7 linked regions of the Homo sapiens genome follow. The protein of the gene in region 1 purifies or fractionates together with the protein of each later gene. This does not show direct contact. Each region holds a gene or a part of one and is shown on either strand. Other genes may lie near its edges. The genes, in order: LILRA5, CNTNAP3, POGLUT3, JAG2, CTBS, ITGA7 and GUSB.

Evidence for each region.
Region 2: the proteins of LILRA5 (region 1) and CNTNAP3 purify together in Homo sapiens (affinity purification with mass spectrometry; one large-scale study listed by BioGRID and IntAct). This does not show direct contact.
Region 3: the proteins of LILRA5 (region 1) and POGLUT3 purify together in Homo sapiens (affinity purification with mass spectrometry; one large-scale study listed by BioGRID and IntAct). This does not show direct contact.
Region 4: the proteins of LILRA5 (region 1) and JAG2 purify together in Homo sapiens (affinity purification with mass spectrometry; one large-scale study listed by BioGRID and IntAct). This does not show direct contact.
Region 5: the proteins of LILRA5 (region 1) and CTBS purify together in Homo sapiens (affinity purification with mass spectrometry; one large-scale study listed by BioGRID and IntAct). This does not show direct contact.
Region 6: the proteins of LILRA5 (region 1) and ITGA7 purify together in Homo sapiens (affinity purification with mass spectrometry; one large-scale study listed by BioGRID and IntAct). This does not show direct contact.
Region 7: the proteins of LILRA5 (region 1) and GUSB purify together in Homo sapiens (affinity purification with mass spectrometry; one large-scale study listed by BioGRID and IntAct). This does not show direct contact.

The regions. Positions count from the first base shown.
Region 1 is NC_000019.10:54,306,570-54,310,166, reverse strand, and holds the end of LILRA5 (leukocyte immunoglobulin-like receptor subfamily A member 5 isoform 1 precursor), read left to right. Parts: intron 1-2,418; coding exon 2,419-2,469; intron 2,470-2,617; coding exon 2,618-2,754; 3' UTR 2,755-3,097; downstream 3,098-3,597. UniProt on the Homo sapiens protein: May play a role in triggering innate immune responses. Does not seem to play a role for any class I MHC antigen recognition.
Region 2 is NC_000009.12:39,173,168-39,176,667, reverse strand, and holds part of CNTNAP3 (contactin-associated protein-like 3 isoform 1 precursor), read left to right. Parts: intron 1-575; coding exon 576-719; intron 720-3,500.
Region 3 is NC_000011.10:108,488,385-108,491,884, reverse strand, and holds part of POGLUT3 (protein O-glucosyltransferase 3 isoform 1 precursor), read left to right. Parts: exon of another isoform or gene 1-683; coding exon of another isoform or gene 684-717; coding exon 718-915; intron 916-3,500. UniProt on the Homo sapiens protein: Protein glucosyltransferase that catalyzes the transfer of glucose from UDP-glucose to a serine residue within the consensus sequence peptide C-X-N-T-X-G-S-F-X-C. Can also catalyze the transfer of xylose from UDP-xylose but less efficiently.
Region 4 is NC_000014.9:105,155,277-105,158,776, reverse strand, and holds part of JAG2 (protein jagged-2 isoform a precursor), read left to right. Parts: intron 1-1,013; coding exon 1,014-1,071; intron 1,072-2,787; coding exon 2,788-3,039; intron 3,040-3,154; coding exon 3,155-3,215; intron 3,216-3,500. UniProt on the Homo sapiens protein: Putative Notch ligand involved in the mediation of Notch signaling. Involved in limb development.
Region 5 is NC_000001.11:84,567,941-84,571,440, reverse strand, and holds part of CTBS (di-N-acetylchitobiase precursor), read left to right. Parts: intron 1-720; coding exon 721-859; intron 860-1,301; coding exon 1,302-1,510; intron 1,511-3,500. UniProt on the Homo sapiens protein: Involved in the degradation of asparagine-linked glycoproteins. Hydrolyze of N-acetyl-beta-D-glucosamine (1-4)N-acetylglucosamine chitobiose core from the reducing end of the bond, it requires prior cleavage by glycosylasparaginase.
Region 6 is NC_000012.12:55,690,905-55,694,404, reverse strand, and holds part of ITGA7 (integrin alpha-7 isoform 2 precursor), read left to right. Parts: intron 1-74; coding exon 75-149; intron 150-281; coding exon 282-384; intron 385-1,087; coding exon 1,088-1,264; intron 1,265-1,429; coding exon 1,430-1,561; intron 1,562-3,500. UniProt on the Homo sapiens protein: Integrin alpha-7/beta-1 is the primary laminin receptor on skeletal myoblasts and adult myofibers.
Region 7 is NC_000007.14:65,975,714-65,979,213, forward strand, and holds part of GUSB (beta-glucuronidase isoform 1 precursor), read right to left. Parts: intron 490-3,500; coding exon 302-489; intron 1-301. UniProt on the Homo sapiens protein: Plays an important role in the degradation of dermatan and keratan sulfates.

The sequences.
Region 1 (3,597 bases):
CAGCTCTCACTTCTCATTTCCAAGAGCCCCTGAGGATGGAGCCCCTCACCCACACCTGCGGGGTCCCTGAGCCCACTCAGGACAGGGGAGGAGGCTGCTCAGGCCTCGGTGGGATCTGACGGTGATGAGGCTGGAGTCCACGCCAGACCTGCTCCTTTAGAGAGAAGCGCCCCAGCTGTGGGTACCACTCACACCGCCCCTCCTGTGCTCACCTGGAGGCCTCTGTGCTCAGGGCACCCCTGAGACAAAGGAGGGGCCGCGCACCTGCTCCCTGGAGGAAGTTAGGAACTTATTCACAGCACGTCTTGTCTGCTGTTCATTGCTGCTCTGCATTTTCTGGGCATACTTGTTTATTTTTTCTCTCTTCTTCTGAATCTTTTAAAACAATATTTGAATATTTAAATTTGTCTCTTTAAGATATATGGATTTATGATTTAAAAACAAGTAATTCCACTCCCATTGTCCTGGGGGCATAATTCAATATTTACATTTGCTGTATAAAATTAGTTGTTAATAGCAAGTATTTCTATTATTAATATATAAAATTGAAGTTTATTAATGAAGTTAATAAGTGTTTTCAAGTTCCGTTCATAAGAATGTGTACATTTAGTCTAATTTAAAAAATTCTTCAACTACTTTATTCTTAAGTGAAGTATTTGATTCATGTATATTTCTTTTGTTTGTTTGTTTGTTTTTGTTTTTGAGATGGAGTCTTGCTCTGTCGCCCAGCCTGGAGTGCAGTGGCGCGATCTCGGCTCACTGCAAGCTCCGCCTCCTGGGTTCACGCCATTGTCCTGCCTCAGCCTCCCGAGTAGCTGGGACTACAGGCACCCACCACCATGCCGGGCTAATTTTTTTGTATTTTTAGTAGAGATGGGGTTTCACTGTGTTAGCCAGGATGGTCTCGATCTCCTGACCTCGTGATCCACCCACCTAGGCCTCCCAAAGTGCTGGGATTACAGGCGTGAGCCACCATGCCCAGCCTGATTCATTTATATTTCTAAGTAAGATATACACATGAGAAAGCTTTTAGTTTGAGTATATTCATTTAATTTCATTTTAGCTTGCTATAACATTTTTCCCTTTCAATTATCTTTCAACTGATCTCCCCAAATTTACTGATAAAATTTATATTAACTATAAGAAAATTGAAATTTTATTTTTTATTTCTAAACCGCATATCAATTTTTGTCACTTCAAGTATTAATATGCATGTAACTGCATCTTAAATAAATATCTAAAGTTTTACATATATACATATTTATGTATGGTTATATAAGTTACATCTGAATATAAGTGTAGGTATATCTGCATATATTTTTTATACGTATATCTACATGCTTAATGTATTTGACATGGAGGGCTTTTACATGTTTGTTATTGGTCTTCTCACCTAGACTCACACTTTATAAAAGCAGAAATTTTTGTTTGTTTGTTTGAGATGGAGTCTCTTGCCCTGTTGCCCAAGCTGGAGTGCAATGGCATGACCTGGGCTCACTGCAACCTCTGCCTCCCAGGTTCAAGTGATTCTCCTGTCTCAGCCTCCCAAGTAGCTGGGATTACAGGCAGGTGCCACCATGCCCGGCTCATTTTTTTATTTTTAGTAGAGACGGGGTTTCACCATGTTGGCCAGGCTGGTCTCGAACTCCTAACCTCGTGATCTGCCCGCCTTGGCCTCCCAAAGTGCTGGGATTACAGGCATGAGCCACCACGCCTGGCCCTAAAAGCAGAAATTGTTTTATGAGCCTCTGTAACACCATATATATATATATATATATATATATATATATATATATATATATATATATATATTTATATATACATATATATACACACACACACACACACACACATTTATATACATACGTATATATATATGACTGACTATATGAATAGTTAGCTGACTAGAGACTTATTGTATGATGAAACACCAGGTGAGGTGGTTGAGGTGGCGTCAAGGGGAGGCAGCTGTTTGTGATTCTGACTTTCAGGAGCCCCTGAGGACCAACCCGTCATCCATGGAGCCTGGGTCCTCAGCTGGTGGATCCGTGAAACTCTCATCTCTGGGGGAATTGGCTTATGTGCTCCTGTGTCCCAGGCTGCACAGAGAGCACAAAGGGCTCAGTGACTTCTGGGGGCCACTTTCCTTGCAGATCCTGAGCTTTCACGGTGCAGGAAAGCTCTTTCCCAAATGACTCAGGAGCAAAGTTTAAATTCAAAGAACAAAGGAAAGCTGAAATAATTCAGTGAGGAGACTGGAGGGAACCCTGCTCCAGCAGAGGGAGGGTTTATGGAGGAACTCCATAAAAGTCATGTTGAGAGGCACAGGGAACTAGGAGAATGCAGAGCTCAGGGGAGAGGCTGGGCTCAGATTGCTTCAAGAACTTCTCCTTCCCCTTCCCCTGTTTTGATTTTCAGGAGCAGCTGATAACCTCAGTCCGTCACAAAACAAGTCTGACTCTGGGACTGGTGAGTGAGGAGATGCTCTCAGTTATGGAACTGGCACAGAGGGTCAGGTCCTGTCAAGATGATATGGGTGCCCTGGGGAGACATCCAGGGGTCCTGGGTGATACTGATCTGCCCTGACCTCTGTGACCTCTTTGTCCACCATCCCCAGCCTCACACCTTCAGGATTACGCAGTAGAGAATCTCATCCGCATGGGCATGGCCGGCTTGATCCTGGTGGTCCTTGGGATTCTGATATTTCAGGATTGGCACAGCCAGAGAAGCCCCCAAGCTGCAGCTGGAAGGTGAACAGAAGAGAGAACAATGCACCATTGAATGCTGGAGCCTTGGAAGCGAATCTGATGGTCCTAGGAGGTTCGGGAAGACCATCTGAGGCCTATGCCATCTGGACTGTCTGCTGGCAATTTCTTTTTTTCTTTCTTTTCTTTTCTTTCTTTTTTTTTTTTTTTTTTTTTTTTGAGATGGAGTCTTGCTCTGTCACCAGGCTGGAATGCAGTGGCGCAATCTGGGCTCACTGCAACCTCCGCCTCTCGGGTTCAAGTGATTCTCCTGCCTCAGCCTCTGGCAATTTCTAGAGGGAGGAATGGGTGTTTGAGTGCAGAGACACTGGTCTGGGGTGATCCATGGAGGACCATTAAAATGTGACACCTTTCCTTTCTATTAATGTTGACTTCCCTTGGTTGGATTCCCTTCTCTTCCCAGCCCGAGACATGAGGCTACATCCCACATGGCAGGCAGCGTTGGGTCCACATCTCTGCACACCTGCATGCTCTGGTCCTTGGCGTGTCACACAGTCCACTTCAATTCTCATTATCACACTCCCTGTGTGCTTTACTGAGCCTCCATCTCTTCAGTTCAGAGTTCCACACCTGAACCAGTAACTAAATCCATGGGAGAAGATCAGATGCCCTCCAGGAAAAGATAAATCCAAAATGGCGTCCTAACCTCTTGTCTGTAGCCTTCAAGCCCCATTCGCTCTTTTTTTTTTTTTGAGACGGAGTCTCGCTTTGTCACCCAGGCTGGAGTGTAGTGGCACTATGTCGGCTCACTGCAACCTCCACCTCCCGAGTTCAAGCAATTCTTCTTCCTCAGCCTCCCAAGTAGCTGGGACTACAGGCGCATGCCACCATG
Region 2 (3,500 bases), on another chromosome or scaffold:
TGGCTTTGGCATATAATATTAAACTGAAGATCCTAGTCCTATACCGGATTATTCAGTTTTATTACTTTAATTTAACCATGTAATAGCAAAAGATAATATCTAATGCAGAGGTTGGCAAACTATGGGCATCAGGCCAAGTTTGGACATTTTTTAATTAAAAAAATACAAAGCCTGTTTTTGTTCAAAAGAGAAGGTTTTATTGGAACATGTTCTCTTTCTTTATGTATTGTCCGTGGCCACATTGGTACTTCGTGTCAGAGTTGAGTGCTGCAAAAGAGATCATATGACCCACAAAGGGTAAATTTACTACATGGCTGAAAATTTCAATGTGGCAGAAAATGTGTGTTGACTTCTTCCTTTTAAGTTTGTTCAAAACTGTGTGGTGCCAGAAATAAAGGTATTAACAGCTGTCATTATGATAGAACACTTCATTTGGAATAAGCAAGCATGCAAATATAAGATAATGGGAATGGATTTGTGACAGTTAGTACTAGACCTATTAATTATAAATGCTTTAAACACGTACCATCAGAAAATCACTAAACAATGTTATTTATGTCATTTTTCTTTCTAAGATCAGCTTTGGGGGAATTCCGACACCCGGAAGATCGCGGGCATTCAGACGTAAAAGCTTTCATGGGTGTTTAGAAAATCTTTATTATAATGGAGTGGATGTTACCGAATTAGCCAAGAAACACAAACCACAGATCCTCATGATGGTAAGGAAGCCTAATGGGAAGGAAAGAAAAAAGGACATTTTATTTTTTGCATTTAAAAATTATTCATGTGAAGTCTCCATTTCATCTAATATTTTAAGAATCAGTTCTTACTTTAACAGCTGCCCATGTAATATAGTAATTTAGTTTTATTTATTTATTTATTTTTAAGACAGAGTCTCCCTCTTGTCTCCCAGGTTGGAGTGCAGCGGCGCAATCTCAGCTCACTGCAGCTTACGCCTCCCAGGTTCAAGCAATTCTCCTGCCTCAGCCTCCTGAGTAGCTGGGATTACAGGCGCCCGCCACCATGCCCAGCTAATTTTTGTACTTTTAGTAGAGACGGGGTTTCGCCATGTTGGCCAGGCTAGTCTCGAATTCCTGACCTCAGGTGATCTGCCTGCCTCGGCCTCCCAAAGTGCTGGGATTACAGGTGTGAGCCACTGGGCCTGGGCCAATTTTTTTTTTTTTTTTTTTGAGACGGAGTCTCACTCTGTCGCCCAGACTGGAGTGCAGTGAAGCTCTGCCTCCTGGGTTCACGCCATTCTCCCGCCTCAGCCTCCCGAGTACCTGGGACTACAGGTTCCCACCACCATGCCCGGCTAATTTTTTATATTTTTGGTAGAGACGGGGTTTCACCATGTTAGCCAGGATGGTCTCGATCTCCCAACCTCGTGATCTGCCCACCTCGGCCTCCCAAAGTGCTAGGACCACAGGCGCACTTTTTTTGTTTTTGTTTTTGTTTTTGTTTTGAGATGCAGTCTTGCTCTGTTGCCCAGGCTGGAGTGCAGCGGTACAGTCTTGGCTCACTGCAACCTCCGCCTCCTGGGTTCAAGCCATTCTCCTGCCTCAGCCTTCCGAGTAGCTGGGACTACAGGTGTGTGCCACCACACCCGGCTAATTTTTTTTAGTACAGACAGGGTTTTGCCACATTGGCCAGGCTGGTCTCAAACTCCTGACCTCAGACGATACACTTGCCTCGGCCTCCCAAAATGCTAGGATTACAGGCACGAGCCACCTTGACCCAGCCTAATATAGTAATTTTTATTATGCATAAAAAGTTATAAAGTAAATATGCCTCATGGGACATCGTTGTTTCATTTTTATATGAAATAAAATAACTTTCTATTTTTACATGGAAATCAGAATTCATATGTCTCACGTGTTTTTGGTGTTGTTATCCACAGGAGACCAATCATTTTGCAATGGCAATCCCTAATGATCTATTCCCTAATCAACTGGAAATACTTCCAAATCAGTTAATAAACTTCTTTCAATGTTTAAAGTTTGAAATATCCAAGTTGGGGTTAAAGGGAAAGCTCATGTTTAGTTGTCAGTGTATCTCAGCAGCACATCATGGGAATATTTATTTGTATTGTTGGGAACATGTTTTCTTTCCTGTTATGTGCTGGAGGAGTTGGCTCATGGGTTGCAGGACCAAAACCTGAAAATATCTCTGACTGTGTGTCACCAGACCACACAATGAATACATCACTTAGGTTAGCATGAGAAAAAGGGAAAAACAGCTGTGAAGCCCATGAACTTTCCAAGAAGGTAAAGGAGAAAAAAAAAAAAAAAGATGGGTTTGAAGTCTAAGTTTTACTATGAACAGCACCCTGCTGAGATCATAAAAATGAAAAATACCATCAAGATACATGAAAAAGGAAACACCAAAGGGAAGAGTGATAACAAGGCTCCACAGAGTGCAGTTTCCTTTGACAAGATGAAAAAGAAATGAAAAGAGGAAGGAGATAAATGGAACAGCCCTCTACCTAAAGTTTCTGTCCATGGAGAAACTGACATTTAAGTGCTGCTCAACAGGAAAAAGAAAAAAGACCTGGTTATTGAAGTTGGCTTTGTTGGAGATGCGTTACTCAGATACAGATACAAAGATGGGTTTGGCCAATGGGCATCCGTGTCAAGAAGCCTGACCTAACACGTTCTGAATATTAAGCTACCTTTTATCTGCCAGTCCTTGGTGTTCAGAAGAATCCCTCCTCCTCACCCTAACTTCTATGGGGCTATTTACAAAGACACTGTCATTGAAGTGAGGAAGAGTGAGTTGGGCCTTATGACACAAAGAGACAAGACTATTTGAGGACAACAGACACAGGTTTTCATATACATTCCATGTTATTCTGAATTACTGATGGGTTCACTGATGGAATTATTGAGTATAGCCAATAAGGAGAACCACAATTAAGCTGGTATCTCTGGGTTCTGGATATCATCCTCAAGAAAACTATTTACTAATTACATTGAATGAGGTTATTAAAATGTGTAAGTTTCACACAAAAACAAAAAGACAATTCATTCCAAATTGTGCATATGGATATATAATGTTAATTATGGGAATTCCATTTTAAGAATTACTACAATTCTATGTGTTCTGTATAAAAACAGGAAAATAGTTGTTCCAATATATAAAAGGAAAACATTTAAAAATGTATTTTGTTGGGAAAATCAGTTGCCAGAATTCATTCAGTCAACTAACAAGCACTCCTCTGTGGCAAGAAGCCCTGCCTCTCTGTTGTAGCAGGCAGCTACCCACCTAAATGATGAGGTCAAGAAATATACAGCTGATAAAAAGATAAAAAATATGTAATAGTCCAGTGATTACATGTGTACTATGGATCAGTGCCAATTACTTGTAAGCTTTTGGTATTTAGTTTGTTACAGCAAATGTTTTCTTTTTTAAATTTTCTTCTGCAAATGTTTTCTTGTCATGAAAACTGTTTCCCATTTGGCAGAATTACAAAAACAGTCAAGAAGAAATGTTCTGATTGA
Region 3 (3,500 bases), on another chromosome or scaffold:
TGTCATGCTTAGAGTCCATGGATTTTTAACTATTTGGGCTTTAATCCTACCCAAAGGAGGAAAGACCAAATAAGCAAAAAGTTTATTTTTTATTTGCTTTTAAAAAATGATTTGCTTTTGTTCATGCAGTAAATCTTTATTGAATGACTAATGATTCAAATGTTGAGTCTGATCCGTGGTTTGAATACATGAACCAGACCAAGCTCTGTGGCTCAAGCCTGTAATCCCAACACTTTGGGAGGCTGAGGCAGTGGGGATCGCTTGAAGTCAGGAGTTTGAGATCAGCCTGGGCAACACAGCAAGACCCCCTCCAACCCATCCCGCCCCCCACCATCTCTACAAAAAATTTCAAAAATTAGCTGGGCATGGTGGCACACTCCTATAGTCCCAGCTACTCATGGGGCTGATGCAGGTTGAGGCAGGAGGTTCATGAGCCCAGGAGGTTGGAGCTGTAATGAGCTAGGATTCTGCCTCTGCACTCCTAGCTGGATGACAGAGCAAGACCCTGTCTCAAAAAAGAAAAAAAAAAAAAAAAGAATGCATGAACCAGACATGACAGTTCCTGGCCTCAAAGATCTTCCAAAGGAAATGATTTTTTTTTAACCACCAATGCTGCAGGAAAAAGCAACATATTTAAGTTATCCAATAACACCTATCCAATAATTGTAAATCATTATCATGACATGGTAGAGTTGTTTATATTTCTTTTCCTTTTAGGTGAAACACCATTCAAAGTCGTAGTCAAATCTCTTTCACCTAAAGAGTTGGTCCGGATACATGTCCCTAAACCTTTGGACAGGAATGATGGAACATTTTTGATGAGATATAGGATGTATGAAACTGTCGATGAAGGCCTGAAGATAGAGGTCCTTTATGGTGATGAACATGTGGCTCAGTCTCCCTATATTTTGAAAGGTAAGTGATTATTATATACTCCAGAGTCAGCCTTGTGTGTAGGTCCCATGCCTTTCAGAATGGCCTAAACCTGATGACCTCAAAGTCATGTGCAGTAAAGTAAACATTGTATACATACCTCCTGGAGCTCAATTTAAATTTTAAGGGAAAGAAAATTAAGTAAAGAGATTTAAATGATAAGAAAAAAATCTTGTGTATTTACATCCATGTAGTTACTATTTGCGAAACTCTTCATTCCTTTGTGTAGATCCATATTTCCATCTAGTAACATTTGCCTTCTGCTTAAAGGATTTTTATTAATATTTATTTTACTGTGAGAATGCTGGTGATGAATTCTTCCAGCTTTTGAATGTCTGAAAAAACTTTATTTTGCCTTTTGTTTGTTTGATTTGTTTTTTGTTTACTTTGAGACAGGGTCTTGCTCTATGGCCCAGGCTGGAGTACAGTGGCACAGTCAAAGCTCACTGCAGGCTGGGCGTGGTGGCTCACATCTGTAATCCCAACAATTTGGGAGGCTGAGGCGAGTGGATGGCTTGAGCTTAGGCATTCAAGACCAGCCTGGGCAACATGGTGAAACCCCGTCTCTACTAAAAATACAAAAATTAGCCAGGCATGGTGGCGGCGCATGCCTGAAGTCCCAGCTACTCGGGAGGCTGAGGCTGGAGAATCGCTTGAACCCGGGAGGTGGAGGTTGCAGTGAGCCAAGATCACATCACTGCACTCCAGCCTGGGTGACAGAGCGAGATTCCATCTCAAAAAAAAGCTCACTGCAACCTTAAACTGCTGGGCTAGGCCATGTGCAGTGGCTCACACCTATAATCCCAGCACTTTGGGAGGCCAAGGCCAGAGGATCACTTGAGCCCAGGAATTCAAGACCACGCTGAGCAACATGGCAAAAACCCATCTCTACAAAAAATTAGCTGGGTGTGGCGGCACATACCTGTAGTCCCAGCTACTCAGGGGGCTGAGGTAAGAGGATCACCTGAGCTCAGGGAGATCGAGGCTGCGGTAAGCTGTGATCGTGCCACTGCACTCTGGCCTGGGGGACAGAGTGAGACCCCCTGTCTCAAAACGAAATAAAACAGAAACAAAAACTGCTAGTTTAAAGCAAACCTCCCGCCTCAGCCTCTCAAGTAGCTAGGACTGCAGGCACATACCACCATGCCCAGCTAATTAAAAAATATTTTTTTGTTTCTACAAAACATTTTTTTGTTTCTACAGGGTCTTTTTATGTTACCTAGGCTAATCTCAAACTCCTGCACTCAAGTGATCCCCCTGCCTCGGCTCCCCAAAGTGCTGGGATTACAGGCATGAGCCACCATGCCCGGCCTAGTTTGCCTTTGTTTTTAAAAGACATTGTCTCTAGTTATAGTTATAGGTTGATGGGTTTTTTTTCTTTTGATACTTTAAAGATGTGGTTCCACTGTCTTCTCACTTGCATTGCTTCTAACAATAAATCTAGCATTTTCCTTATCTTTGTTCATCTGTGTTGCTTTTAAGGTTTTCTCTTTATCAGTTCTTTTGAGAAGTTTGATTATTATGTGCCTTGGTGCAGTTTCCTTAATGTTTCCTGTGTTTTGGATTTGTGGAACTTCTTGGAATTTAAACCATCCAAGTGATTTAAATTTCATCAAATTTAGAAAAATTATGGCCATTATTGCTTCAAATATGTTTTCTGTTCCATTCCACCTTACCTTCAAGGATACTAATTACCCATATATTGGGCTTGAAACTATCCTGTGGTTCATCGATACCCTTTTCATTTTTTAAATTCTTTTTTCTCTTTGTTTCATTTCGTATAGTTTCTATTACTGTCTCTAAGTTCTCTTTTCTTCTGCAATGTACGATCTGTTGTCAATCCTATACAGTGTAGTTTTCACCTCTTGATGCTTTTTCATCTTCTTGAGCTCTTTTCTGGGGTGCAGTTAAATCACTGGGAAATAGTTTAATCCTTCCAAGTTTTGCTTTTACAGTTTGTTAGGTGGGACTAGAGCCATGTGTAGTCTAGGGCTAATTATTCCCCGCTACTGAGGTAATACCCTTCTGCATACTTTACCCAAGCCCTGTGAATTAGGAGGCTTTCCAATCTGGCTGGTACCCACCGATAAGTACTGTTCTCTCTGGTCATTTTGGATGGGTTCTTCCCCTGTCTTCCCCAAGAACATATGAACACTCAGGTGGCAAATATCTTAGATGTCCATTTCTCAGCCTGAAATCTGTTTTCATCCTTTGTCATTATCATTCTAAATATTTAAATGTTATACCTAAATAATTAAACTGTATTATTTTTAGAATCAATACAGGGGAAGAACCCATCCAAAATGCACTGATCATATGCTCTGCTCAATATGTGAAGAGGACCTTCTATAGATCTCTAACGTTCTCTCTGTGCAGTGCTTCCTTTTTAGATACTCTGTCCTACAAAGTCTAGAGCTGCCTTGGTCTCCCTGGACTGCCAGCTCTGTCTCCTCAACTCAGTGAGGCTGCCTGGCTTTGCCTACAGTCCCCCTCCCTGTACTACAACCTCAAAGCTCCCTTAAGCAGTAGGCTGTAGGAATTGTAGGGCTTACCTTATTTGTTCCCCA
Region 4 (3,500 bases), on another chromosome or scaffold:
GCCCCAGCCCCCTCCTCTGGGCCCCACCTGGAAGGAGCCAGGGCTGGGCTCAGGGGTCAAGAGCACACCAGGGGTAGACTGGGGGGTTCCTGGGCAGTGAGGGCTGAGAGGCTGTGGAATGTGGGTACCCAGTGCTGGGTAGTACAGGGCATGTCCCGGGGGTCCCACCTGTCTGAGCATGTCTGTGAGTGACGGTCTCCGTGGGCTGCACTAGGCGGAGCAGGGGGCCAGCCCTGTGGTCTCTTTGCTTGGCTGACAGCATCGCCTGTCGCCATGGCTGGGGTACAAGGGCCAGGTGGCCCGGGGGCAGAGGGGGCATAGTGGCCATGGTCTGAGGCTGTGCTGGGCAGTCCCAGGACCTCTTGGCCTCAGTTTCCCCAACTGTACCGCAAGGGCCCCTCCTGCCACCTGTTCTGTGTGAGGGTGGAGGTAGGTGTGGGTTTGCCTGTGTGCTGTATGCCTGCAGGACCTGAGCTCCGGCCTGTTGGGGCCTCTGGCTGGGCGCCCTGTACTTGGCCACCCCGTGCACTTGGTGGAGGCCGCCAGCGTGGTGATGGGGCCCCACGTTCTCCCCCGTGGTCACCCCCAGTGAGGCACCAAGGGGCGTTCCACAGGAAACGCTCGGGTCCCGGCTGCCCATGGGGCCCCTGTCTGTGGCCACTCCAGCCAGGCTGCCCTTTGCCCACCTCTCCCCCCGGTCGCTCTTCCTGTGCTCCGTGCTGACTTGAGCCAGCTCAGGGCAGGCTGGGCCTCTGGCACCCCAACGGTAGGGAGCCCAGGCCCCTGAGCCCGCGTGGCCTGGAGGGGCAGTCTCCCTCCCTTGAGCTGGGTCATTTTTGGGTCTGCAGAGGATGTGGCCTGAGGATGAGGAGGGTGGTGGGTCCCTGGCTGGGGAGGAAGGGCCAGAGCCTGGCAGACCCAGGGGCAGCGTCTGAGCCCTGGGCCTTGTCCCACCCTGAACGAGGCAGGCAGGTGTGGCCTCAGGTACCTGACCCGCCTCCCCATGTCTGCAGCGCTCCTTTACCCTCATCGTGGAGGCCTGGGACTGGGACAACGATACCACCCCGAATGGTGAGTGAGCCCTGGGCCAGGTGGCAGCTCCTCTCAGCTTCAGCGTGCCTGTGGCAGGGCCCAGCTCCTCTGTCTGCTTGGGACAAAGCCTTGCTTTACCCTGAGGATCATGTGTGCTGTTTCCCTTTTTGCTTTGGCTGCCAGGAAGCTCTGCCACGTTTGGGACTTGCAGAGCTGTGCATGCACTCTCTTCCCCAGTCCTGGCTTTGCCTATGTTGTTCTCCTCTTGGGTGTGCTCTTTTGGGGCCCATGGCAGTGACTTAGTGGAGGGGACACCCTTGAGTGTGTCTCTGGCTTTGTGGCCCCCTCTGCTTGTCTGTACTGGAGCATGGAGCCTTGGTGGCCCTCTCCCTGAGGCAGGGGCTCTGCAGGGCCCTGCAGGGGTAACGGGATGACTTCCATGGGTGAATGCAGAAGCACCCACAGGCCAAGGGAGCAGCTCGTGTGAAGGTCTGGGCAGGAGCGGGCTGGCTGTGCAGGGGGAGCAGCCGGGGCTGGGCTCAGATCATGGAGGCTGGCAAGCCACTGAGAGGACACGGGCTCCGCCTGGCAAGCTGTGGCTGCCTTATGGAGGGTGGGCTGTGGGGCCAGGACACAGACCGAGGAGGAGCTGCCACGTGAATCTGGGCGTGTCAGGGTGACTTGGACCAGGGGCAGTCTGGGGGTGAGAGGGGCTCTCAGAAGTGGAGGCATGGGGTTGGCCAATGGGTTGGAGGAGGGAGAGCGGGGCCAGGGCATCCTGGCTGCCAGCAGAGTGGAGGGGCTGTTTTCAGGGCAGGGACGGCGGTGGGGGTGCCCAGGTGGGGAGCAGCAGTTGTGGGGACCCCAGCGGCTCAGGGCAGGGGTGTTTCCTGAGGGGGTGGCAGAGAGACAGGTGGGCTGAGTCCCAAGCAAGGTCGTCAGGGCTCTTGACAACGTGAGCCTGGAGAGGCTGGGGCGGCCGGGACGCCCCTTGGGGAGTGGGCCAGCACAGTGTCCTCCCAGGCCTTGGCCCGAGGCGGGAGAGGTGGGGTCTGGAGGACCCGTTCACCTTTTATTGTGCAAAACGTCGAGCCTGTGCCTAAGCGCAGGGACCGGCATCACGGACTTTGCATACCAGCGCCAGCAGCTGTGGTGCCCCTGGCCCCTGGTCTCCTGGTGGCTTACTTAAAGTGAGGCTTAGACAGCGGGTCACGGGACCTATGCCTGTCTTGGGGGCCTGAGGGGAGGCTTGTCTTAAGGTGGGGACGGTAGTGGTGTTTGGCACTTCTGGGAGCAAGTCACAGCGCAGGAGAGGGGAGGGCAACTGAGCACCATGTCCGTGCTGTCGAGGGCTGGACACGGCGCAGGTGGGTGCAGGTGTTGGAGCAGGGCTGCAGGTGGGTGGGCACAGGTGTGGGACGTGAGACTCACGCCCTGGCAGCAGCCGTGCCTTCTCTGTGGAGCCTGTGGTCTCAGCAGCCCTCCCTGCAGGGCCCCTAGCCCCTAGCCGGGCCCCCCGACCCTCTGCGTTTAGGGTGGGAGCGGGGCGCAGGCTTGGTGGCGGGAGGGAGAGGCCTCTCGGGGCCCTGAGCTTTCTGTAGCAGCCTGGCCGGGGGCCCTGCCCTCCGTGTGCTGCTGCCTGCTGTGCCCCGGCCTTGCAGCAGCCGCAGGCTTCTGCCCCGTCCCCGTTGTTCCTGGAGGACCCCTGGCCGGGCTGGTTTCTCTGGCCTGTGCTGACTCTGCCGCCTCCCCAAGAGGAGCTGCTGATCGAGCGAGTGTCGCATGCCGGCATGATCAACCCGGAGGACCGCTGGAAGAGCCTGCACTTCAGCGGCCACGTGGCGCACCTGGAGCTGCAGATCCGCGTGCGCTGCGACGAGAACTACTACAGCGCCACTTGCAACAAGTTCTGCCGGCCCCGCAACGACTTTTTCGGCCACTACACCTGCGACCAGTACGGCAACAAGGCCTGCATGGACGGCTGGATGGGCAAGGAGTGCAAGGAAGGTGAGGGGGCCGCTGGGCTGCGTGGAGGGCAGGGAGGGCCTCGGGCAGGGCCCCGGGCACAGGCCTTGCGGCCAGGCTGGCTGCAGCTGTGCCTCTCGCTCCTCTCTGTTCGCAGCTGTGTGTAAACAAGGGTGTAATTTGCTCCACGGGGGATGCACCGTGCCTGGGGAGTGCAGGTGAGTGTGCCGCCGGCCCGTCTTTGCCCTCCCAACCTTTGCCCTCACGTCCTCACTGGCACACACAGCCTTGCTGTCAGGAGTCGCCCGGAGCTGGCTGGAGGTTGGGCACACAGCTGTGAGAGCCGGGCCCTGAGCTCGGGAGGCTCCTTAGTGCAGTAGGTGCGTGTCTGAGCATGGGATGTGTCTGATGGCGGCAGCCATGTGAGGACAGTGAGGAGAGACTGGGGAGGCTGGCTGGACAGTCACGTCACCGAGGGGCAGAGACCCGGAGGCTGCAAGCCA
Region 5 (3,500 bases), on another chromosome or scaffold:
AAACAGTAAATGTATTTATGGCTCCATCTGCAGTAGCCAGAAACTTGAGTATTATCAGACTTCTCTCCTTTGATTACTCATTCGATTAGTCACAAAGTCCTGTCAATTTTGCCTCCTTAGGATCTTCCAGATCTGTTCACTTAACGCCACTGCTCCACAATTTTAGTTGAGGTCACCATCATCTCTTACTTGGATTCCTCCAACAGTTTCTGTATTCTGCCTCCAGTTTTGGTGTCTCTTTAATCCTTTTCCCACTGCAGCTGAAAATATTTTTCTAAAATGCATACCTTCCCCTTTTAAAAATGCTTTTATTCTCTCCCTTTACCTCAGGATAAACAAGGTAGTACTAACTTCTCAACAGAGCTTATGAGGCCTTTCATGATTTAATCCATGCCTACTACTCTCTGGTCCTTCACTAATGCTCTCTCCCCAAATTCTAGACGTCGGCCATACTAAATATTTAGTTACGCAACCACCATGTTGTCTCTGCCTCCAGGCCTTGGCACTTGCCACTCTTCCTTCCTGGCCCATCCTTCCCCTCTTTCCCAGCCTGGCTAATTACCCCTGCCACCAATTATCTTGGGACCCCTATGTCTTATGCACTTGTACTCTCACTGCCACCATAGTGTTTGGTGTATGGTGATGTTTGATGAACGGTATTTTGGACGGTCAGCATAATATTCTTGGTTTAAATGATGGTGCTCATCTTTGTTCTGGCAGGTCTTTGTGTTTGATGTTGGACAGAAAACTTGGAAATCTTATGATTGGTCACAGATTACAACTGTGGCAACATTTGGAAAATATGACTCAGAACTTATGTGCTACGCTCATTCAAAAGGAGCCAGAGTAGTACTTAAAGGTATGTTGTTTCCAGATCTATGTGTGCAGCAATTGGGAAATTTATCTGTATCACTTGCTATAGTCCCGACTTTCCAAAAAAGTCCTTTTATGTTTATCTGTTTTTGTTAGGATCCTATAATTAATCTTAGATACTGTGTAATTCATTTCACAAACACAGATCTTTTTAAAAGAATTAAACCACTGTATGGTTTTGAGCAAAATGTTAACTGCCAAATTAGCCTTATGACCTTTACTTAATCATAGTCCACAATTTCTGTTTCTAACTTCAGAACAATTTTACTAATGATTTATAATGGTTATTTTGGAGATTCATGAGTAATGGCTTTCTGTTACTTTGGTATATTCTTTCTCCATTGGAAAACTTCAGTTAAGGGCTTAGTCTTCCAAAATAATGAAATGTTTTTGCATACATGTTCAAAAGATATATACTTCTTCCACAGGAGATGTATCCTTAAAGGATATCATTGATCCTGCTTTCAGAGCATCCTGGATAGCTCAAAAACTTAATTTGGCCAAAACACAATATATGGATGGAATTAATATAGATATAGAGCAAGAAGTTAATTGTTTATCACCTGAATATGATGCATTAACTGCTTTAGTCAAAGAAACTACAGACTCTTTCCATCGTGAAATTGAGGGATCACAGGTAAAAACTCATTTATTTTTTGGAAACCTCATATTTTCCATATCAGAATATACTCATGAGGGTATAACTAATATAATCTTTGTTTTATAGTAATGCAATGGGAAAGAGTTTCAGCACTTATTTCCTAAAAAATTTTTCTGGAGCCTTTGGTGTTCTTATTTAAGGAATTTTAAAGCCCTAAATCTATTCTCTATTCACAGCAAAATACAACACTGGGATTACCCCCACTACTTGCCTTGTAGCACAGTTAGAAGTGTTAGGCAATGGGAGAACAAAAATCAAGGGGGGCGCCTAACCAGCTTTTACCAATGCAGGACAGAAACAACCCAGGAGTAGAGGTAGTTCTGGGGAAGTGTATCACTTGCTCTACAGTCTCTGAATTACTTGCACCCAAGGCCCAGTAAAGCTTAAAGGACTAACTACACAGAACTGTGACAGCTATAACAATAGGCAGTGTGCTTCCCCACTGCCATAATGAACATGATTAGAGCAGAAGGTAACAACACAAGCTATCTTGCCAGACAACAGATGGGTAACAGAGGATAATGTGAACCCAGATCAGTGATCCTCAAACTTGGCCACATATCAAGATAACCATAGGTCTTAAGGAAAAGTAAGCATGTGTTTACTTTTCCACACACATGCACACTGTGAACTCACTCCCAGAAATGATTTTTCAAAAGGTTTTGGGTAATCCCAGAGCCCCCAATTTTAAAAAAGTTTCATTGGTGATTATAGTTAAGAAGTAATAGGCTAGACAATGAGTTTTTTTGAAGACGGGGTGCAGCTCCTTGATATCTAACAGAATGCTTAAAAATGTATTCCAGTATAGAGCATTATGAGTATTATAAACCAGTGATTCCTAAACCTGTCTCAGAATTACCTGAGAGTGCTTGTTTAAAATATCCTGAGTGTATTAGTTTGTTCTCACATTGCTATAAAGAAATACCTGAGACTGGGTAATTTATAAAGACAATAGGTTTAATTGGCTCACGGTTCTGCAGGCTATACAGGAAGCATAATGCTGACATCTGCTTGGCTTTTGGGAGGCCTCAGGAAAACTTACAGTCATGGTGGAAGGCAAAGCGGGATCAGCACTTCAAACAGCCAGAGAAGGAGAAAGAGAGAGGGTGGGGAGGTGCCACACACTTTTAAACAATCAGATCTTGTGAGAACTCTATCACGAGAACAGCACTGGAGGGGGAAATCTGCCCCTGTAATCCAGTTACCTCCTACCAGGCCCTACCTCCAACATTGGGGATTACGATTCAACATGAGATTTGGGCGGGGACACAGATCCAAACCATATCACTGAGATTGACTCAGTAGGTCTGGGATAGAGCTTAGAGAACTGTATTTTTGCCAAGTGTCCTAGGTGATTCTGGTAGAGTTGGTCATCATGAATTTGAAAATTACAGGTAAAATAATTTGAGAATTACTGGTAAAATAATAAGCAATATGACGACTGACATTTCTGTGGTTTTATGCAAATAGGGAAGATCTGTCAGTATGGAATTCAACTTGTCAGGAGAGTACAATGTAGATTAAGAACAGCAAATACCTGGCATACAGGCCACAATACCCCTTCTCCTCCTCACACATTTTGGCCTCAGAAACTTTTCCTTCATTCTCTAGATAGTGATTACTAATAGGTTAGAATTGATGTGTGGAATATATGGGAAACAACCTATTTGACAATCCTGATTAAGCTGTAGTGAAAGAGCAGAGAGGAAGAGATTGAGCAAAATCCTTGCAGTAGGAATATCTCTTTCTGTCTCTTGAGAGGTGAGGAGAACAATTTGGGCTACATGTCAAGTTCATGTTAGGTGAATTAGTGGGAGGGACAGTTGCAAAGGTAGGCCAGATTGTGGAAGATCCAGAATGTCAGGCTGAGGACTGTGCATTTTATTCTGTGTGTAATGGGTTATGTGTGTAAAATAGTGTTTGGGGAAACTATTCTGTAGGAGTATGTAAAACTAGATGAGAAAGG
Region 6 (3,500 bases), on another chromosome or scaffold:
TCATATTGACCTCATCTGACCCCTTGGGAGGTGCCTGTGCCTGATGCCCATACTTGCCCCTGCCCACTCACCAGGATCAGTGAGCAGGAGCTGCATCCAGTCTCTGCACGAGCCCGTGTCTTCATTGAGCTGCCACTGTCCATTGCAGGGTGAGCCTGGCCCAAGGGGGCACCTCCATTGGAGGGAGGGGGCATTGACATTTCCAAACCTTGGCCAGGGCCCTGCCTTCATTGAGCCAGGCCCCAGACCTTCTCACCCCTGTTCTGACCTCTCCACGCCAGAATGGCCATTCCCCAGCAACTCTTCTTCTCTGGTGTGGTGAGGGGCGAGAGAGCCATGCAGTCTGAGCGGGATGTGGGCAGCAAGGTCAAGTATGAGGTCACGGTAAGTGTCAGGGATGAGGCCCCTCCATGGTCACCCTCCCTCCTTGGCACAGAGGAGAGGCTGAGCTGTGTCCCCAGGGCTGGGGCTCTTCTACCATGTGGCAGCATGCAGTTTGAGGCCTCTGTCCTGCATATGGACCTTGGCTGTGGGAAGGTGTTCCTGCTGGGGCCTCATTTGACCATTTCCTGGTCATTCTGTCTGGCTGTCTCACCTGCTGGTGTGGTAGGCCATGAGAGTCCAGGGAAGCTTCTCTGCTGTGGGCCTCAGCTGGGGGATGGGAACATGGGGCGGGGGGTTAATGTCTCTCCCTAGAACTCTGCCTTTGCTTGGCTGGGGCCTCTCCTCACACCTTCCAGGGACACTTCCAGGGTTTCCCGGATTTGGTGGGTGGAGAGAATGGTGCCTGGTGGGGTCTAGGATCCTGAGTATTTGTTGAAATTGTGTTTCCTGAGGGCCTTCTCTTCAGCCCTTGTTCCTTCCATCTCTGTGGATTTAGGATCCACTTGAAAGCTGAGTTCCTTGGCTGGGCACGGTGGCTCATGCCTGTAATCACAGCACTACAGGAGGCCAAGGTGGCAGGATCACTTGAGCCCAGGAGTTAGAGACAAGCCTGGGCAACATAGATCCTGTCTCTACAAAAAATTAAAAAAAAAAAAAAAAGAAAAACTGAGGTCTCTCCCCTCATACTCTCTTTTTCCCACAGGTTTCCAACCAAGGCCAGTCGCTCAGAACCCTGGGCTCTGCCTTCCTCAACATCATGTGGCCTCATGAGATTGCCAATGGGAAGTGGTTGCTGTACCCAATGCAGGTTGAGCTGGAGGGCGGGCAGGGGCCTGGGCAGAAAGGGCTTTGCTCTCCCAGGCCCAACATCCTCCACCTGGTGAGGCTTAGGTGGGGGTGGGGGTTAGATGTGGGGACAGATGTTATGGGGAGTAAGGGTAGTGAGTGCAGTGATGGGGCAGGAGGAAGGCGGTGGGGAGGAGATTCGATCTTAGCACTGCTGTGATTGGAGGGACACTCACTAAGACCCCCCTTCCGTGTCCAGGATGTGGACAGTAGGGATAGGAGGCGGCGGGAGCTGGAGCCACCTGAGCAGCAGGAGCCTGGTGAGCGGCAGGAGCCCAGCATGTCCTGGTGGCCAGTGTCCTCTGCTGAGAAGAAGAAAAACATCACCCTGGTGAGGGCAGGCCAGACTCGGTGCAGCCAGAGCTCCGGGGTGCTGCGTGTCCAGGAAGGGTACCTGTTGAGACACATGATGGTCTGGGTGCAAGTTGACCAGATGTTCCCATCACAATTCATAGGAGGGGGTGCCCGGGAGGCAGCTACTGACACTGCAGACCCCCTTCCTGCTCAGCCCCTGCAATTGCTCACTCTAGAACAGGTCACTCCACCTGAAGCCAGTTAGTTAGCCAAGCAATTGATTCACATTACGTTTATATAAAGCATTACATTTTATACGTGATGGGATGGGGTTAGCCCATCCTCACACTTTGAGGTCTGTTTGTCGTTCTTTTGAACTCTTATAAGATAAAAAAGTCAATTTGTGTAAGGACACTTGCTTGATTTTTACAGTATTAAAAATGTTAAGTTCTTTTTTGTTGTTGTTGAGACGGAGTCTTGCTCTGTCACCAAGGCTAGAGTGCAGTGGCACGATCTCAGCTCACTGCAACCTCTGCCTCTGGTTCAAGCGATTCTCCTTCCTCAGCCTCCTAAGTAGCTGGGACTACAGGTGCATGCCACCACACCCGGCTGATTTTTGTATTTTTAGTAGAGACGGGGTTTCACCATGTTGGCCAGGCTGGCTGGTCTCGAACTCCTAACCTCGAGCGATCTGTCTGCCTCGGCCTCCCAAAGTGCTGGGATTATAGGCCTGAGCCACGCGCTCAGCAAAAACACTAAATTCTAAAAGTTCTAATAATTAAGACAACCGTATATTATATGTGATTTATTAAGTTTACCCCTTTTGAGCAGTTTTGCTTTCCCCTTTTCTGCTTGTTTTGCAGAGTTGTGTTGTTTAGGTGAAGGTATTGAGCAGATCCGCACATGCTCTGTGCCCCTCCCTGCTAGGATGGGGCTCGCAGTGAGAATGTGGTGGGGACTTAGATTAGGAGGTCTTTGGCTTGATTGTAAGGAGGTGGAGGTAAACCCCAGGTAGAGCCAAGGAGACCCTTTGCAGGGGAATGTCAGCAGCTGCTGCAGTCCCTGCTTTGGGCCCTCAGCTCCCCTGGGAGCATGGCATGAGGCAAACTGAAGAACGTCAGGGGATGTAGGAACCCATGTCGTGGCTGTTGCTCTATTACATGGATAATCCTCCCTTCTCCACGTGACCGATTTCCTCTGAGAGGCCTCCCTTTTAAATGGGAACTTTGAAATAGATTCTTTTTGTTTTCATGTTAAAATGTATTTATTTATTTAAATGACAAAAATTATATTTATCATGTATAATACAATGTTTTGAAATATGTATATACTGTGGAATGGCTATATTGAGCTAATTAACATATGCATCACCTCACATACTTATTTTTGTGGTAAGAACACTTAAAATCTATTCTCTTAGTGATTCTCAGGAATACAATATGTTGTTATTAACTACAGTCCCCATGTTGTGCATTAGATCTCTTAAATAGATATCTCTTCCTTCTGTCTAACTGAAACTTTGTATCTTTTGACCACCATCTCCTCCATCTCCCCAGCCACACCCCGCCTCCACTCCAGCCCTAGGTAACAACTATTCTACTCTCTACTTCTATGAGTTCAACTTTCAGATTCCACATATAAGTGAGATAATGCAGTATTTATCTTTCTGAATCTGGCTTACTTTGCTTAACATAATGTCTAAAGTAGATTCTTTTTTATTTTATTTTATTTTTTTATTTTTTATTTTTTAATTTTATTATTATTATACTTTAAGTTTTAGGGTACATGTGCACAATGTGCAGGTTAGTTACATATGTATACATGTGCCATGCTGGTGTGCTGCACCCATTAACTCGTCATTTAGCATTAGGTATATCTCCTAAAGCTATCCCTCCCCACTGCCCCCACCCCACAACAGTCCCCAGAGTGTGATGTTCCCCTTCCTGTGTCCATGTGTTCTCATTGTTCAATTCCCA
Region 7 (3,500 bases), on another chromosome or scaffold:
GGTGGCATGTGCCTGTAGTCCCAGCTACTCAGGAGGCCAAGGCAGGAGGACTGCTGCAGGCTGAGAGTTCAAGGCTGCAGTGAGCTGTGATCAGGCCATTGCACTCCAGCCTGGGTGACAGAGTGAGACCATCTCAAAAAAAAAAAAAAAAAAGAAAATGGGCCTCCCACCAAGGGTGAGAAACATCAGAAAGCTCAGAGGACCATGCCTGCCCATCCACCTGTCTTGGGCTCCTGCTGAAGCCAGGGTCACCACATGGGGGCAAAAGACCTCCCTTAGGCATGTCCCAAACCACCATTACCTCCAATGAATACAGATAGGCAGGGCGTTCGTGCATCAGGTACGGCCACCAGAGGCTGACACCTGGCACCTTAAGTTGGCCCTGGGTCCCAGTCCCATTCGCCACGACTTTGTTTTCTGCATCCAAAAGACGCACTTCCAACTTGAACAGGTTACTGCCCTTGACAGAGATCTGGTAATTCACCAGCCCTGCAAGAAACAAGAGAGACCAGGGCTGAGGGAGGGACACGACCTGAGTCACACAAACAGGAGCGCCCTGCAGCCACCGCTGCCAGGCAGCCATTTGTTTCTGTTGCTTTTTTTAAATTTAATTTCTTATTTTTTTTTTTTGAGACGGAGTCTCACTCTGTCCCCCAGGCTGGAGTGCAGTGGCATGATCTCGGCTCACTGCAACCTCCACCTCTGGGGTTCAGGTGATTCTCCTGTCTCAGCCTCCCAAGTACCTGGGATTATAGACGTGCACCACCATGCTTGGCGAATTTTTATATTTTTAGTAGAGATGGGTTTTGTCATATTGGCCAGGCTGGTCTTGAACCCCTGACCTCAGGTGATCCACCCGCCTTGGCCTCCCAAAGTGCTGGGATTACAGGTGTGAGCCACCGCACCCGGTGCTTTTTTTAATTTAAAAAAAGATTTTGGCCAGGTGCAGTGGTCACACCTGTAATCCCAACACTTGAGGAGGCTGGGGTGGGAGGATCGCTTGAGACCAGGAGTTCAAGACCAGCCTGGGTAACATAGGGAAACCACTTCTTCCCTAAAAATACAAACAATCAGCCGGTCGTGGTGGTGCGTGCTTGCAGCCCCGGCAGCCCCAGCTACTTGGGAGGCTGAAGTGGGAGGATTGCTTGAGCCAGGAGTTCGGGGCTGCAGTGAGCTATGATCTTGAGGCAGGATAGGTAGTCAAGGAAGTGACCGTGTCCCTCAGACATGCCAACCACGGCACTGAGACACGTGACGTGTGAACAAGCATGTACAGCTACTACGCATGTGCAACCAGAGGACGGCCCAGAACGTGCTTACAGTAACACCTCTTCCCAGCTCCTTAGGAATTCATCACGGAAGACTCCCAGAAAGGGAGTTTCCCCAGTAATAATCGGTGCTGTCTCATCCTTACGAGCAGCCTGTCCTGAATTCTGTGTCTCAGGGTGAACTGTGCATTTTGCACTTCACTATTTTTTTTGAGATGGGGGTGTCACTCTGTCACCTAGGCTGGAGTGCAGTGTTGCAATCTCAGCTGACTGCAACCTCCACCTCCCGGGTTCAAACAATTCTCCCATCTCAACCTCCTGAGTAGCCGGGATTGCAGGCTCACACCACAATGTCCAGCTAATGTTGGCTAAGCTGGTTTGAACTTCTGAGCTCAAGTGATCCACCCATCTCGGCCTCCAAAAGTGCTGGGATTACAGGCATGAGCCAGTGCACCCAGGCTGTTCTAAACTTAACTTCCAAAATACCTTTCCTTGGCAATAAATTGCTCTATGGTGCATTGTCTTTGCTGTGGGATTCTTTTTTAAATTCTTTTTTATTCATTTATTTTATTTTATTTATTTATTTTTTTCTTAGATAGGGTCTCAGTATGTTGCCCAGGCTGGTCTCAAACTTTGCAGCTAAAGCGATCCATCCACCTTGGACTCCCAAAGTGCTGGGATGACAGGCATTAGCCACCACACCCAGCCTAAATTCTTTTAAACTTAGAACCGCGGCCCCACAACGGCTGTCAATAATCTCACCACTGCACTCCAGCCTGGGCCACAGTGCAAGCCTCATCTCAGAAAAAGAAAAAGATATATATATATTTTTTTATTTTTATTTTTTGACATGGAGTCTCGCTCTGTCCCCTAGGCTGGAGTGCAGTGATGCAATCTCAGCTCACTGCAAGCTCTGCCTCCCAGGTTCACGCCATTCTCCTGCCTCAGCCTCCCGAGTCGCTGGGACTACAGGCCCCTGCCACCATGCCCGGCTAATTTTTTGCATTTTTAGTAGAGACGGAGTTTCACCATGTTAGTCAGGATGGTCGCGATCTCCTGACCTCGTGATCCCCCCACCTTGGCCTCCCAAAGTGCTGGGATTACAGGCATGAGCCACCGCGCCCGCCCTGAAAAAGATATATTTTTAAAAAGAAAAAAAACTTAAAACAAAAATTTTTCTTAAATACAGACCGAGCGCTGTGGCTCATTCCTGTAATCCCAGCATTTTGGGAGACTGAGGCGGGTGGATCCCGAAGTCAGGAGTTGAACCAGCCTGGCCAACATGGTGAAACCCCATCTCTACTAAAAATACAAAAATTAGCTGGACGTGGTGGCACACGCCTGTAATCCCAGCTGCTCAGGAGGCTGAGGCAAGAGAATTGTTTGAACCCGGGAGGCGGAGGTTGCAGTGAGCCAAGAACACGCCACAGCACTCCAGCCTGGACAACAGAGCAAGACTCCATCTCAAAAACAAAAAACAAAAACAAAAAAAACAGGGTATCCCAGCTGGGCACAGTGGCTCACGCCTGTAACCCTTGCATTTTGGCAGGCCGAGGAGGGTGGATCACCTGAGGTTAGGAGTTCAAGACCAGTCAGGCCAATAGAGTGAAACCCTGTCTCTACTAAAAAAAAATAGAAAAATTAGCCGGGCGTGGTGGCGGGTGCCTATAATCCCAGTTACTCGGGAGGCTGAGGCAGGAGAATCGCTTGAACCCGGGAGGCAGAGGTTGCAGTGAGCCAAGATCACGCCATCGCACTCCAGCCTGGCGACAGAGCGAGACTCCAGCTCAAAAAAAAAAAAGAAGAAAAAAAGAAAGACAGGGTCTGCGTCTGTTGCCCAGACCAGAGTGCAGTGGTGTGGTCATAGCTCACTGCACCCTTGACATCCCAGGCTCAAGTGATTCTCCTGCCTCAGCAGCTGGGACTACCGGCACACATCACCATCCCTGGCTAATTTTTTAATTTTTTGTGGTGATGGCCTCACTATGTTGCCCAGGCTGCTCTTGAACTACTGGCCTCAAGTGATCCTTATACCAGGGCCTCCTTGCAAAGTGCTGGATGACAGGCATAAGCCACCATGCCCGGCGCCCCCCCCACCGAAGCTGCCTGTTCCTTGAGCACGATGTGTAGCAAGGGGAGATGGAGTGAGAGTAGCACCATAGAGAAGGGACAGGATTGCCACCCCGAGCTGTGTGACGTTAGGCCAGACCCCTCTTCTCCTAGCGAGGTCAA